Homo sapiens: one gene and its partner. The protein of the gene in region 2 purifies or fractionates together with the protein of the main gene of each other region. This does not show direct contact. Each region holds a gene or a part of one and is shown on either strand. Other genes may lie near its edges.

Region 1 (7,287 bases), on a different chromosome or scaffold from region 2:
TGTGGTATAAATTCACACGATTATCTTTCAAAAATTTCAAGACCTGTCACAGAAGTTCTAATACTCAAAAATCACAAAATTATATATCCATATGTTAAATTACGTATACACACACAGGATAGATACATGAGCTAATATGTATCATTTTTATATTCCATTCTAAGTTCCAAAAGAATCTTTCAAAGCACAGATTGCTTTTTTGGAAGCAGCAAGGAGAATTTTTACTTCCTGCTGACCAGCACTATTTTATTTAAAGGCAACTGTTTGTGGACCTTAGGAATCAGTCTTCTCTTGACCACCTAGTATAATAATTGCTGAAAATGGGCTGAAACAATCATATTACACTGTTTACATCTGTTTGGATGCTCCTCTTACCTTTCATCTACAGAAATGTTGTACTCTTCGCTATTGCTGTGTGGAGGAGGATGTGCTGGGGGAGGAGGAAGCAGGTCTGCCCAGTTCATGCCACCCTGTTTTGGTACCTTGGGTGTTCTTGCCCCTTTCTTGTGCCCCTGACTCCCTAGAAAGGAAATAAAATAGAAGCCATTGATCTCTGGCCTTTAAACTTTTTCCATTAGTCACAAGTTAATTATTTTTTGTAAATATGATTTTATAATTCATTTATATATACAGAGATAAACATGCTTTTTCATTAATTTTAAACAGAACTTTGTACAAGAGAACATGCAAGGTACTGCCATGAATAACTGCAAAATAAATAGCAAAAAAGCAATAAAACCATGAATGAATGTTTCAAGTCATATCATTAATAGTGATCTTCCTGCAGCAATTAATTGCATTATGGATTATCATCTCAAACAAATGAGCTGTAGATATATTTTCTCGAGTGCCTTTCTATTATTTAATTGCTGGAACTTAAAATACAATATGATACAGATACGATCTATTAGAGTTCCACTGTTGCATTAAATCACTGAATATATATAATTTGTACTTGTCCATTGAAATGTTTTAGGCACAATGAAATTACTAGTTCCCTTCAGAAAGGCAAGTACAGATGAAATAATAGCTGGAATAACTGATAGAACTAATGACAAAAGAAGCAGAAAAATGATTTTTAAAAGGGACAGAAGTGTTTTCAGCCACTGTTTCTGTACAATGATGGCTTATGGTAAAATGATGTTGCTTGAACATTCTTAGTAGTTTGACATAGCCCAATCATTCAAGTGCTCCAGTGTTCTCATTTTAGATCTGGCATATTTTTTAAACACAAGAGGCTATATATTTGAGAGCATTTATTTTAACAAAAACTTTAGGTCAACAAATATTTTGGGACAAAATATCCCCTTTCCAATATGTTATATTTTTGATTCATATGTGAATTATAGACAATGAGTCTATGATTATTTTTCTCATAAGTTCCCTTTATATCAGTGCATTATGTTGGCCTTAGTTTTTTAACCCTATCCAATCCTTCTCCAAGTCATGTAATATATGAATCAGGTCTGATCATATTCAATGAGCCTTGATTTTTTTGTCACTTGGGAATTTTCAGTCAAATGGCAGTGTTTGTTAAGCCAGATGTTCTTGTACTGGTAGGTTACCACACTAAGCGTGGGCTAGGGACAGGCTGTTATTAATAAACTACGATTATCAGTCCTATGTGTATGTCTCTCACTTCTCTCGTCCACCACTCCGGTGTCCAGCATTGGGATAACTGTGCATGTGTTGTAGACTAGACATTAACCCACATCTTCCTCTGGATTTCCTGATATACATCTACTGTAGCAACTCCATCAGTCCGGAGAGGCCTATCACAGATCTCTCCTATACCTTATTTACTTGCTTTGTTCTCTTCCCTAATTACCATCACGCATCTTTACATCTTTTTACCATATATTCACAGAATATCAAATGATATATAGCAGTAGAACACCCAGATCTAGGTATCTAAGCTGAGGGATGCTGAAGGTCAATTAAAGATTAATAACCTAGAATCATTGTTTATTTTCCCATTAAGATATGGTTTTCTCTATGTGACTAAAAATTCAAAGATCAAATGGCATAAGATAATCAAATATTAAAATATTTCATATGATTTTCTTAAAAGTAGATCCTTGAAATATTTCTCTTAATTCAGGATTGACTTAGCTTCAAAAAAGAAGTCATTTAATAAGATGTTAATTGTTAAAACAAACAAATAACATATAATAGAATCAGAGTAAATCTAAAAGGTAAAGGGCCATTTCTAAGCTCCCTTAATTCCAACAGAAACACAGGCTAGACAATGCCAGACCAGCGTGTTAGTTAAGGGAAAACTGTAAAATGCAAATGCCATATTCATTACAGAAGAAGGGTGGAGACTCTTGGCTAAAAGCCCCTAAGAACAACTTTAATCCAGTTGCTGGGAAGTGGCATTTCTACCCTCTCCTGGAGAAACATTGCTAGAGTCAAGATCAGTCGGTTTTGTTCTCATTGTGGTGTGATGTGCCACATGTTAGTTCTAATAACGAACTGCCTTTAATTAGAAAAACAGGACTTAAGTACCCAGCAAGCTCCCATCTGCAGCCCCTATCAGGAAAACAGCTGGCAAACAGCTGTAACAGCATGAAGACCACAGGGAAGAGGCCTCAATGTGGCTTTGGGAGGCACTTACAGACTGAGGTTGGGAGGTTGCTTTACGAGGCTTCAGAGCAAGAACTGAGGGATCGTAGAGGGATGATAAACTGAGACAGGCTCCTATTGTACCTGAATCTCATGTTATTGTCTCTCCGGCTTTTGATTCTGCTCAAGTGTCCTCAAACATTATGTGCTTTTATAGGCTCGTTTCAAATGGCAACATATTTAGCAGGTTAACTCTGTGCAACATTTTTAGTTATATTTTGGCCAACGGGGAAAAAGTTTCAACTGCCTTTAAAGATTAACCAGACATGTTTCTTCTGGCTTTGCTAAAGCTCATTAACAAGGAAGAAAATAGGACACTTAGTCTTTTTGCCAAATAGAACATAAAATGATTTAGTGAGTGGAAAGTCCCTCAAATTGCAGAGACAAGACACATGCCTGAGACTCAAATTACATACAGTGATTTAGACATGTCACCTACATACGTCAGTCCATTAGCACTCAATTTGTAATCTTGGAAAGTACCAGCTTTTTAAAGGAGAAGTTCTTTGGTTCATCTTACTTACCAGATGTACTACTGCCCCGGTCTGAGCTGTTGTAGGATCCTCCTGTGTTCTGGTCGTATGATTGGTTGTATGGGATAGTTGGAGGAACTGTGTCATTTGCTCGATAATCTAGACATATCAGATGAAAAAACAATAAACATTTATTTTCTCTTCATGAGCGATTTCACATCTCTGCTTTCTCTATATTTCTGAGTAACTAAAGAAACAAATTGGACCATTTATTTGCCTTTTTTCTCTTCTATTGTTGTATTCAGATTGTCAGGATATAAAAAGGCTTATACTCCAAATATATATAAACTATAAATAACTTTAATAATATAATATCAATATGATTTTAATAAGAATCACAAAAATGTCTGCAAATCATAAAAAATAAATCACAATACATAAAAATAAAACTGAAACCTGTCAGCAAGGTTATATCTAATAAAAAATATATCTATGATTAAAAAAAACAAATATCTTAATTTGCCCCAGAAATGCTTCTGCTTACTTAGGCAAAGGTGAAAATCCAAATGATAAGCTTGCCACTGGAATGTAGTCAGTAATAATCTGTCGTCTAGTTGCATTCCAGGTTCTTTATTATGGTCTGACATACCAAATCTGCTTACAAGCAGTATAAACAATAAATCAGAGTTCTGAAATATTTGTGCGGAGGCTCTCAGGGCTTTCCGAAGTCCACAGTAAAACAATATACTATGAAGGAATAATGTGACAATAGTTTGAATCACCACTGCAAACTCCATGATTACAGAAACTGTCCTGTTCATCTTTGTCAGTTTTTGTTATGAACTTATGCAGGAGTCTCGATCCATATTTATTAAATTGGGTTATTATACCAATCAAGTACTTTCTTAAACTTGAGAAAAGCCTAGCTGACTTCATTCTCGAGTTAAAACATAATATTAACTTAAATGAAATTTTTAAGTTATATTTTTGTCATCTTCAACTGTGATAAATCGCATTTTCAAAGAAAATGTTCCCAACCCAAACCTAAAGAAAATGTCTATGTCTCCAATTATCTCCAGTGTATTCTTTACCTGGAATAGGTGGGGATGCATTGCCCCCATCTATTCACATTAGAGCAATCCTGGTTTTCCTAGAGGTATAACTTTGCAAATCATGATATTATAGCAGTAGCCTAAAGGACTACAAAGAAACCAAACACCTATCTTTTCCAACTCATACACATTACAATACAGAAACATTTCCTTCAGGCCACAGAATACTATTCTGCGGCTTCAAGTTAATACTAAACTCAATTTATTTTAGGTTCTATACGGACAGACTTCAATCAGGTCAACCAAGGAAATTTAGGTTCTAAAATTATACACTGTAGCAGTCTTAATAACCACACGAGGTGGGAGACATACAACAAATTGAACCACTTCTCCAGTTCAAGTTTAATTTAATTATTTTATTTCAGGTTGATATAAAAATGCCATTGGTTTATATAACCACATAGAAGCAATTATCTTCCATCCTCTAGTGGAAAGAATGGGATAGTCTATTTATTGAAAATGCGAGGTATTGTGACAGTTGTACATCTGCCTCATGAATAAAAGATTGTCCGTCCCAATCCCTCACCTGCTATTAAATTTAAATTAATCTCAAAACCATTTGAAAATACTTATATATTATTATAAAATAAATTTTCCAAGGTTATTGTTGTGCTAATTAACTCTTTGACACTGGAAATTTTGAAACCAAAGAAATAAGAAAATCTCAGCGACAGAAGAAAAGATTTTACTTGCTAGTCGCAGACAAGTTTCAACATCTAGTCGAGGTGCTGAGAGTATCATACAGAAACAGATGGGAATACATGCAAGCCTCTTCACCTTTGTTCAGCTTGTTTTGCTCCACGATGTTGTACTGAACTGGTGCCACTTCTTGTTTCTGCTGTCCCAGTGGTTTCCAGTGCTTCTCGCCAGAGTCCCCGCTGCCATTGTTCATGTTGTTGCTGAGGTTTGACTGGATGAGCTGAGTGGTGGCGTAAGGAGTAGGCTGCCCTGATGGATTGACAAAACGCCCATCCTTCAGATTTGGGCTATTGAAGGTTTTCATCTCATTGATTTTGTTACTAAGGTCCACATCACCATAAACAGTTGACTCAGGGAGCATCAGATTTGTTTGTTTGTTATCCAGTTGGTTGTTATAATTTGCTATACAATCAGCTATGTGCAATGGAGAGGAAAAGGAAAAAATCATTCTGCGTGGTTATTCCTTTTAAATTTCTTTTTACGTAGCTTTGCGAGTCATCAGAAAATCGTTATGTAAAGTACAAGTGGGCTTAAATAAGATCAATAAAAACGGCCAAATATCCACATGTGCTTTCTAAAGAAAATTAATAATTGAAAAAATAAAAGAGGGTACACAGAATTTGTAGAGACTAAATAAATTTGAATTTCTGATAGTGCTGAAGTAAACAATTCATCCAATTTAAAATAATTTTCATTTAATAACCTCATTAATAGGAATTCCACTAAAATAATATATACATGTATATCTTTATGTGTCAACTTTTTATTTTCTAGTCTTTGGTTACTGAATTATTTGAAGCTACTGGTTAGCTGCTGAAGCAACAGACAAAGCACATAAATGAAAAATCCAAAGGAAAAAACTATTCATAGATCAAAGAACTTGAGATTTTGGTATTTTATAAAATACCTACATTTAAAAGATATGGGAACAGGGGTAAAATGATAGTAAATGGTACTAAGGAGAATTCTATTAGTTCTTGTTGTAGTCCTGTTGGATAATCATTATCCGGAAAACATGCTATATAATTATTTTCTCATGGTTTCATAATGACAACCAAAGAAATATAAAATGACAATAATAATAATAACAAAAGGAATCATAGTAACCTGGGTAATTGAATCAAATAAGCCTGAAATAATACTTAAATATCTAATATCTCATTTCCACTCCAGTTTTCTCTCTATTGAAATATTTGGACATTAAATAACTGAATATACATACATAATATATACATTCATTTTATATATATATATATATATATATATATATATATATATGGCCTGCAGTTGAAAATATTAAAATGGTAGGAAGAACTGAAATCATATTTTTAAATTAAAATAGATTTTAAATAGAAAAATTAGTTAAATTACAATGGTAAAAATGTCATTATTTTATGCATGTTGTCCAAAAGTGGTACCAACATTAACAAGTCACCTGTAGCATTGGTTTTTAACTGGATATGTTTAAAAATTATAAATTAACATGTTTGTTACTAAAGATGTAAATGTGAATATAATCTTAAGAAAAATGTGTAATTTCTCTATCCTACTGAATTCAACTATTCTGCATTTCAACCATGAACCGTCAGGGAACAGAAATATTTGATTCATCTGGACTTTGTGATTCTTATTTCTAATTTCTAGTTTTGTTTAACAGTGGTTAAGAAATACTATAAAGATCATGTGGTTTTTGCATTCTCATTTTGTTTCGCCAATCTGTCTATATTTGTGTTATCCAACAGAACTTTGGAGATATTGGACATGGTCTACTCCACTTTGTCTGATACAGCAGCCACCAGTCACACGTGGCCACTGAGCACTAGAAATGTAGCTAGTGCAAAAGAGGGACTGAGTTTTAAACTATATTTTATTAAATTCAATGTAAATAGCCATCTGTTGCCAATGGCTACCATATTGGACAACACAGCTCTACCTATTAAATGGGTATCGCCATTTTTTCTCTCCTATAGGTCTCAACCCAGTTTTTCTTGTACTTATGATTACATGAGTATCTATCTGTCTAGACATTCAGAATATGGGCCTCTAGAGGACAGAGACTTGGTCACATGGATACGTCACATCCACGTCCAGTGGACACTCAGGATTCGCTTTAAGGGCAGACATGCAGACTGCTCTATGATTTGTTCTTTATAGTGCATAGCATCTTTACTTAAATCCAACTTCTCTCTCGCCTTTCCGTAATTCCACAGGTTATTTTACTTCTATCATCATAGAGATTCCATACAATAATTTTAATATTTCCTATATTGGCAATATTGGGTTTTTTTTTGGGGGGGGGAGGGGTTGTTTGGTAAGAAATCTTTGGTAATTTTTATTCCTTTAAATCTTGCAGACTGTACATCTGATTTTTTACTATT
Region 2 (7,287 bases):
GAGATGGGATTTCACCATGTTGGCCAGGCTGATCTCAAACTCCTGACCTCAGGTGATCCACTCTCCTCAGCCTCCCAAAGTGCCGGAATTACAGGCATGAATCACTGCACCCAGCCTGGTTTTATTTTCTTAATCCCTAAAGATGAGTACTGAGCGCTTTGTTTACTGAAAGTATTTAAGCTATGTATTTTCCTCTAAAGTAAAAATTCTGCATTTGCCAATGAAATGTAGATGTTCTTCTCACTGCTTTTTAGGCAATACTATTTTGCCTCAGAGGAAAGAAATGGGATCAGAGGATTGAAAAGAAACTTCCAAGATAAATATTTTTTTCTAAAATCTCAAGCAAAAAATAAGATTAAAATAAATTCTCTCTGCTGATAGCTGAGATGAAAAAAAGAATAAAACATAAATACATTCTCTCTGCTCTGCTATTAATTTTGCATTATCTAAACAATTTAATAAGAATTGGCTGGGCAGGGCCAGGTGCGATGACTGTAATTCCAGAATTTTGGGAGGCCGAAGTAGGTGGATCACCTGAGTTCAGGAGTCTGAGACCAGCCTGGCCAACATGGCAAAACCCCTTCTTTACTAAAAATACAAAAATTAGCCGTGCATAGTGGTGGGTGCCTGTAATCCCAGCTACTCGGGAGGCTGAAGCAGGAGAATCACTTGAACCCAGGAGGCAGAGGTTGCAGTGAGCCGTGATCACGCCACTGCACACCAGCCTGGGCAACAGAGCAAGGCTCCATCTCCAAAAAAAGAAAGAAAGAAAGAATTGGCTGGGCAGCCACGCATGACAGCTCAGGTCTGTAATCCCAGCACTTTGGGAGGCCAAGGCGGGAAGATCATTTGAGCTGACGAGTTCAAGACCAGCCTGGGCAACATGGTGAAACCCCATCTCTCTACAGAAAATAGAAAAATCAGCCCAGCGTGGTGGTGCACACCTGTAGTTCCACTGAGGCAGGAGAATCCCTTGAGCCCAGGAGGCAAAGGTTGCAGTGAGCCAAGATTGCACCACTGCACTCCAGCCTGTGCAACACAGCAAGACCCTGACTTAAAAAAGAAAGAAAGAAAGAAAGAAAGAAAGAAAGAAAGAAAGAAAGAAAGAAAGAAAGAAAGAAAAAGGAAAAGAATTAGTGCATGTAAACAAAGGCTAACAATTTGTCCCAAGGATATTTAGTATCCCGTATAATACAATGCTATCAAAATAGAAAACCCTTAGTATTTTCTTTGCCTAGTTTTACTCAGTTTATTTACTAAGGTAATAAAATCATTCTTTTATTCCTTTATTTGACAAATGTTTATTGAGGGTAGGGCATTCAGATATAGTAGGGTAAGACAATGGGAGTTCTTAGCTACTTCAATTTCTTCTCAAATTGTACACCAAAAGAAAGAAGGCATGTATGCTTCCATTCTTGTCTGATAATTTAATCACAGGAGATGAGTATTAGACATTAGAAAAAAACAGAAAATGGTTGTATATGGAAATGCTATTGTCCAATCCACAGAAGTAGATTTTGCAAAACTAAGACTCCTGTAGAAGCTTGTGACTTACAAGTTGGAAATCACAAAGAGTGCACAAGATTTTATCTGTTTGTCCTTATCTTTGTAATCTTGTATCTGGCAGCTTTTTCCTCTATCTGCCACACTAACTGGACTACTGGAAGTTTTCTCACCAATAATGATGGCAGCAACACCAACTGAAAATTTTTCCAGATGAAAACGACTGCACTCACGCTCTATGATGTACAGCTCCGGTGGCTAAATTGCTCATCTGCATTAAAGTAAATGCAAAACTGCTTCTGGGCTGGGCATGGTGGCTCGCACCTGTAATCCCAGCACTTTAGGAGACTGAGGCGGGAGGACTGCTTGAACCCAGGAGTTCAAGACCAGCCTGGGCAACACGGCAATACCCTGTCTCTACCCCAAAAAAATACAAAAATTACCCAGGCCTGGTGGCATGCCCCTGCAGTCCCAGCTATTCAGGAGGCTGAGGTGGGAGGATCACCTGAGCCCAGGAGGCAGAAGTTGCATGCAGTGAGCTGTGATTGCACCACTGCACTCCCGCCTGAGTGACAGAGCTAGGCCTTGTCTCAAAAACAAAACAAAACTGCTTCTGAAGATATTACCTTTTTTTTTTTGAGACGGAGTCTTGCTCTGTCGCCCAGGCTTGAGTGCAGTGGCGCGATCTCAGCTCACTGCAAGCTCCACCTCCCGGGTTCACGCCATTCTCCTGCCTCAGCCTCCTGAGTAGCTGGGACTACAGGCACCCGCCATCACACCCAGCTAATTTTTTGTATTTCCAGTAGAGATGGGGTTTCACTGTGTTAGCCAGGATGGTCTCGATCTCTTGACCTCGTGATCCGCCCACCTCGGCCTCCCAAAGTGCTGGGATTACAGGCTTGAGCCACCGCGCCGCGCCCGAAGATATTACTTTTAAGGGGAGAATATTTTCGTAGTACAATCTCCAAATTCCAGGTTGAAATTCTGACCCCTTATCCTAATAGAAGATAATCAATCAGCTATTCAAATTTTAATATTAGGAAAAGTATAGGGAACCATGTTATTAGTACAATTTTTTTTTTTTTTGAGACAGAATTTCACTCTGTCGCCCAGGCTGGAGTGCAGTGGCGCAATCTCGGCTCACTTGCAACTTCTCCCTCCCAGGTTCAAGCAATTCTCATGCCTCAGTCACTTGAGTAGCTGGGATTACAAGCATGTGTCACCACATCCAGCTAAATTTTTGTATTTTTAGTAGAGACGGAGTTTCACCGTGTTACCCAGACTGGTCTCAAACTTCTGGCCTCAAGTGATCCACCCACCTCGGCCTCCCAAAGTGCTGGGATTACAGGAGTGAGCCACTGCGCCTGGCCTTAATATAATAATTACACATCAGGACATAGTTGGTAACCTAAGGAGCTTTTAATATTGAGAAACTGCCTGAATTCCATTGCCTAGTCTATTCCAAAAAGTAAAGCTCTTCATAAAAAGTCAGATTCACATTACAGAGAAAAAAAATTATGTCAGAAGGATTGGTAGCTATTTAATAGTTACATATAAGATTAATATGAATGCAGGAGGTCTTCACTAGCAGGTGTCAGAACTGCTCAATATTTTTAACAATAACCTGGATAAAGCTACAGAAGGCAGGCTAGTAAAATATAAACTTAAAATTATAAAAATAAGTTTTTAAAGAAAAATTAAACTATTTTTTAAAATAAGCTAAAATTGGCTGGGCGTGGTGGCTCACACCTGTAATCCCAGCACTTTGCGAGGCCGAGGCCGGTGGATCACCTGAGGTCAGGAGTTCATTACCAGCCTAGCCAACATGGTGAAACCCTGTCTCTACTAAAAACACAAAAAATTAGCAGGGCGTGGTGGTGTGCGTCTGTAGTCCTAGCTAGCTGGGAGGCTGAGGCATGGGAATTGCTGGAACCCGCGAAGAGGAGGTCGAAGTGAGCCAAGATCATGCCACTGCACTCCAGTCTGGGTGACAAGAGCAAAACTCCATCTCAAAAAATAAAAAATAAAAAAAATTAGCTAAAATTAACAGGACGAAATTTAATAATGATGGATGTGATATTCGACATTGGGATTCAAAGAATCAACCATATAAACTGAGACCAAAAAAGGGGGTCAGGTATTTGGATTCTAGACCCTTGAAGAAGTAGCAATTCCTACTCAATTAATCAACAGAACACTAGGTTTCAAGGTTTCAGAATAAAAAGAGTAACCAGTCTTGCTGGGTATGGTGGCTCACACCTGTAATCCCAGCACTCTGGGAGGCAGGGGCATGAGGATCGCTTGAGGCCAAGAGTTCAAGACCAGCCTAGGCAACAGAGTGATACCCACCCCCCATCTTTACAAAAAAAAAATAATAATTTTTTAATTGAATAGAGTGGTGAAAAGGGGAAAAAATAATAGCCAATCTTAATGTTCGCATAAAATAAGTAGATTATATCTGGAATACAGTATTTTATTTAAGAAGAATACTAAAAGCTACAGAATAAGAGTGCCTCTCATAGAAAACCTTAAAAGAAATAATTTGAAAACTGTATCTTATAAGATAGCACTGTACTAAGAGTAAAGTTTCTGGAGCAAGGCTCCACTATCTCCTAGATTTGGGACCAGTGGTAAGTTTCTTCTCTTTGCCTTAGCTCCCTCATCTAAAACACTGATCTAATTACAAATATCTACTTTCTAGAGTTTTGGAGAAGATTAATATATAATATTTTAAACTAATTATATAATTACACATAATACGTTAATATATAATTACATATTATATATTAGTATATATAAAATACTTAGAAGAGGGTGATATAGTAAGTACTCAGTAAATGTCAACCATTACGAACTGAAAGCATGGATGTTTAAACAGCAGAAGGCAAAAGATGCCAGGACTTGATACACATGTTCCAATTGAACATGATGACCAAAGGGATCCTTTCTTTTCTGTGCAACTTGAGAAAGTCAGAACAGCATATTCAATCAACGGTGAAGACTTCGGTTCAAATACAGATGAACTTTCATGGAAGGAGCATGTTCCCCATAATTGTTACACAGAGGTTGGGTAACTGTCAGAGGTGCTTCAAAGGACAGCAAGCACTTTGCACTAAAAACTCAGAATTGAATTAAGATTCTATGATTATAAAAAAATTGATTTGTCTTTCAACAGTTTCAATCTAGACTATGGTTCCACGAGTACTAGTCCAGCAGTACCATATGAAATATTACACTTTAGCAAAAATACAATGAAGGAATAAGCTTATGGCTTATCTTTCCATATTTATCATGGAAGAAAATTGCTACCCAATAAAAGCAAGCCAAAAAAACTGATGAATGGAAGGAAGTTATCAATGAAGAGTGCAACAACAAGCAGAAAAGTTTATTTTATTCTCAATCCATAGTAAGTGCTCAGGGAGACTTTTCACAAAAGAAATCAGCTGACAAGCATTTTAAATAACTGTTTCTTTCCCTTTAAACAAATATTCTGAGAATAAAATCATTCAAACCTCTGTGAGGATTTGAAGATCCCACAAAGTCCTATAATACTTACCTAATCATTCTTAATTTTCATTCAAAACCACAACACAGAAAAAGAAATGTAGTGCTAATCTTTTTATTTCTCTTTTACTAGAAAATCTGTCTCATTGATCCTTAAGAGTCTAATTAATGAGAGCCTTAAGGCTATTAAAAGAAATACGCAGTCTTCTAACTGAGTTCTCTGGCTACAACCTATGTGTTCTACAATCTATTCTTAACATTACCACTATTAATAATACCAAAGTATAGCTCCAATCTGGCAATCTTCATTCCAAATAACATCCTCTAAATGAGATTTGTAAATATTAATTAGCATTTCCTATAAAGATTTTTAAAAATCTGTCCAATAATGAATGGCAAAATATGGTCAATTCTAGCCTTATCTCGTTGAAATAATTTTGAGAAATATTGGAAGAGAGAGGAAATAGAAATGAATTAATGAATATGACAGAGTTCTAACAGAGTCTCAAATAAGCTGATGATAATTTTCACTCTAAGTCTCACTTTTGAGCAAGATGAAGAGTTAATATACTGGCATTACGGAACAGTCATTAAAAATATTCATGTAAACCACATAGAAACATGGAAAAACCTAAATCTTCAGTTCAGCTTGTGAGCAAAAAGAAAAAAGAAAGAAAGAATATGAGAAAACAAATGCTATCACCATATTCAAATGAGAACCACCATAAGAAAAATTATCAATTCTTTTATTGTTTACCAGACTATAATATTGATTTTAAAACTAATCAAAACTGATTCATCTAAACACAGTAATGCTTCCATAAAAAATATAAGAAATTCCAGCCAGACATGGCAGCTCATGCCTGTAATCCCAGCACTTTGGGAATCCAAGGTGGGAGGGTCACTTGAGGTCAGGAGTTTGAGACCAGCCTGGCCAACATGGTGAAACCCCCATTTCTACCAAAAAATACAAAAATTAGCTGGGTATGGTGGCGTGCGCCTGTAATCTCAGCTACTCCAGAGGCTGAGTGGTGAGAACTGCTTGAACGCAGGAGGTGGAGGTTGCAGTGAGCCAAGATCGCACCACTGCACGCCAGGCTGGGCAAGAGTGAGACCCTTTCACAAAAAAGTAAAATATATAAGAAATTCCTCTTCTAGGATTTTATAAAAGTTAAAACCTGTGGGAAATGGTCTTATTTTAGGTCACATTCAGCCCTATAGTTTCACCACATTACTGTATTTCAGGACTGTGATAAGCCCTGGGGGATAGAAATTAATTTAACAAATGCTTATAATCCAGCATGGGCCAGACATTATAAGTTTGTGGGGATGGCAGCATTGTTCAAGTCTCCACCCTGCTTTCCTTTTGAATGACTGGTCATCAACACTCTTATCATCACTCTCCTGAATACTATGCAATTTTTTCACTTTCCTTAAAAAACTAATTTGAAAGTCAGTGTCCTTCTGTCAACCCTTCTTTTTCACAAGTTAACTAACTTTTAAACCTCAGTACCATCTTAGATCCCTCCTTACTTTTTTCATTTACTTTTTTTGAAATGGGAGGCTCTCTATATTGCCCAGGTTGGACTTGAACTTCTGGGCTCAAGCAAATCTCCTGTTTCAGCCTCCCAAGTGACTGAGACTACAGGCTCAAGCCACAGCACCTGGCTCCCCTCCTCACTTTCTATCAGTTTCTAAATTCGGCATTTTTTTTTTTAACCACATTTCATCTCACATTTCTTCTAGGTCTCTATCTAAATTGAGGCTTTTATTTCACATCTGGATTATTCAATGAGAATGCCTGTTAAGACACAGAGTTGATACCTGGACCATCTCCTTTCAGCTCACTTCAATGTTTACTTGTAGCTGGTATGCACAGTTAACACACTGACAACTTCCCATCTCAACTACTTCTCTCCTCAGCTCTCCAGCACCTCAGGAGCTTGCCAAGCCCTACCTAACCAGTGTACCTGGGAAGTTCTGGGAGCCTTTTAGATAAAGGCAATCTTTATCAGTGAGGATTGACTGTAGATGGAAAACCACCCAGCTCCCCTTCATTTGGGGCAGTTATACAAAACTCTGAGGCAGTTATACAAAAATCTCCAAAGGCTTAAGCAGCCTCCAGTTGGCCTTCCACTATTAACCTTTTTTCCTCCTTCTCTGATTCTACCTGCTTCCTCACTTGTGCTTTATAGCATCTCACCTGCACCCATGTCATCTCAGGTCCAAGTTCAAGATGCACTTCAGAGAAACCATAAGGGCTACAAAAATAATGGTCAC

The links.
Region 1: the proteins of USP33 (region 2) and ROBO1 purify together in Homo sapiens (affinity purification with western blotting; 5 studies listed by BioGRID and IntAct, with this or other methods). This does not show direct contact.

Annotation. Positions count from the first base shown.
Region 1 is NC_000003.12:78,630,786-78,638,072, forward strand, and holds part of ROBO1 (roundabout homolog 1 isoform a precursor), read right to left. Parts: intron 5,324-7,287; coding exon 4,988-5,323; intron 3,258-4,987; coding exon 3,150-3,257; intron 521-3,149; coding exon 376-520; intron 1-375. UniProt on the Homo sapiens protein: Receptor for SLIT1 and SLIT2 that mediates cellular responses to molecular guidance cues in cellular migration, including axonal navigation at the ventral midline of the neural tube and projection of axons to different regions during neuronal development.
Region 2 is NC_000001.11:77,749,566-77,756,852, forward strand, and holds part of USP33 (ubiquitin carboxyl-terminal hydrolase 33), read right to left. Parts: intron 1-7,287. UniProt on the Homo sapiens protein: Deubiquitinating enzyme involved in various processes such as centrosome duplication, cellular migration and beta-2 adrenergic receptor/ADRB2 recycling.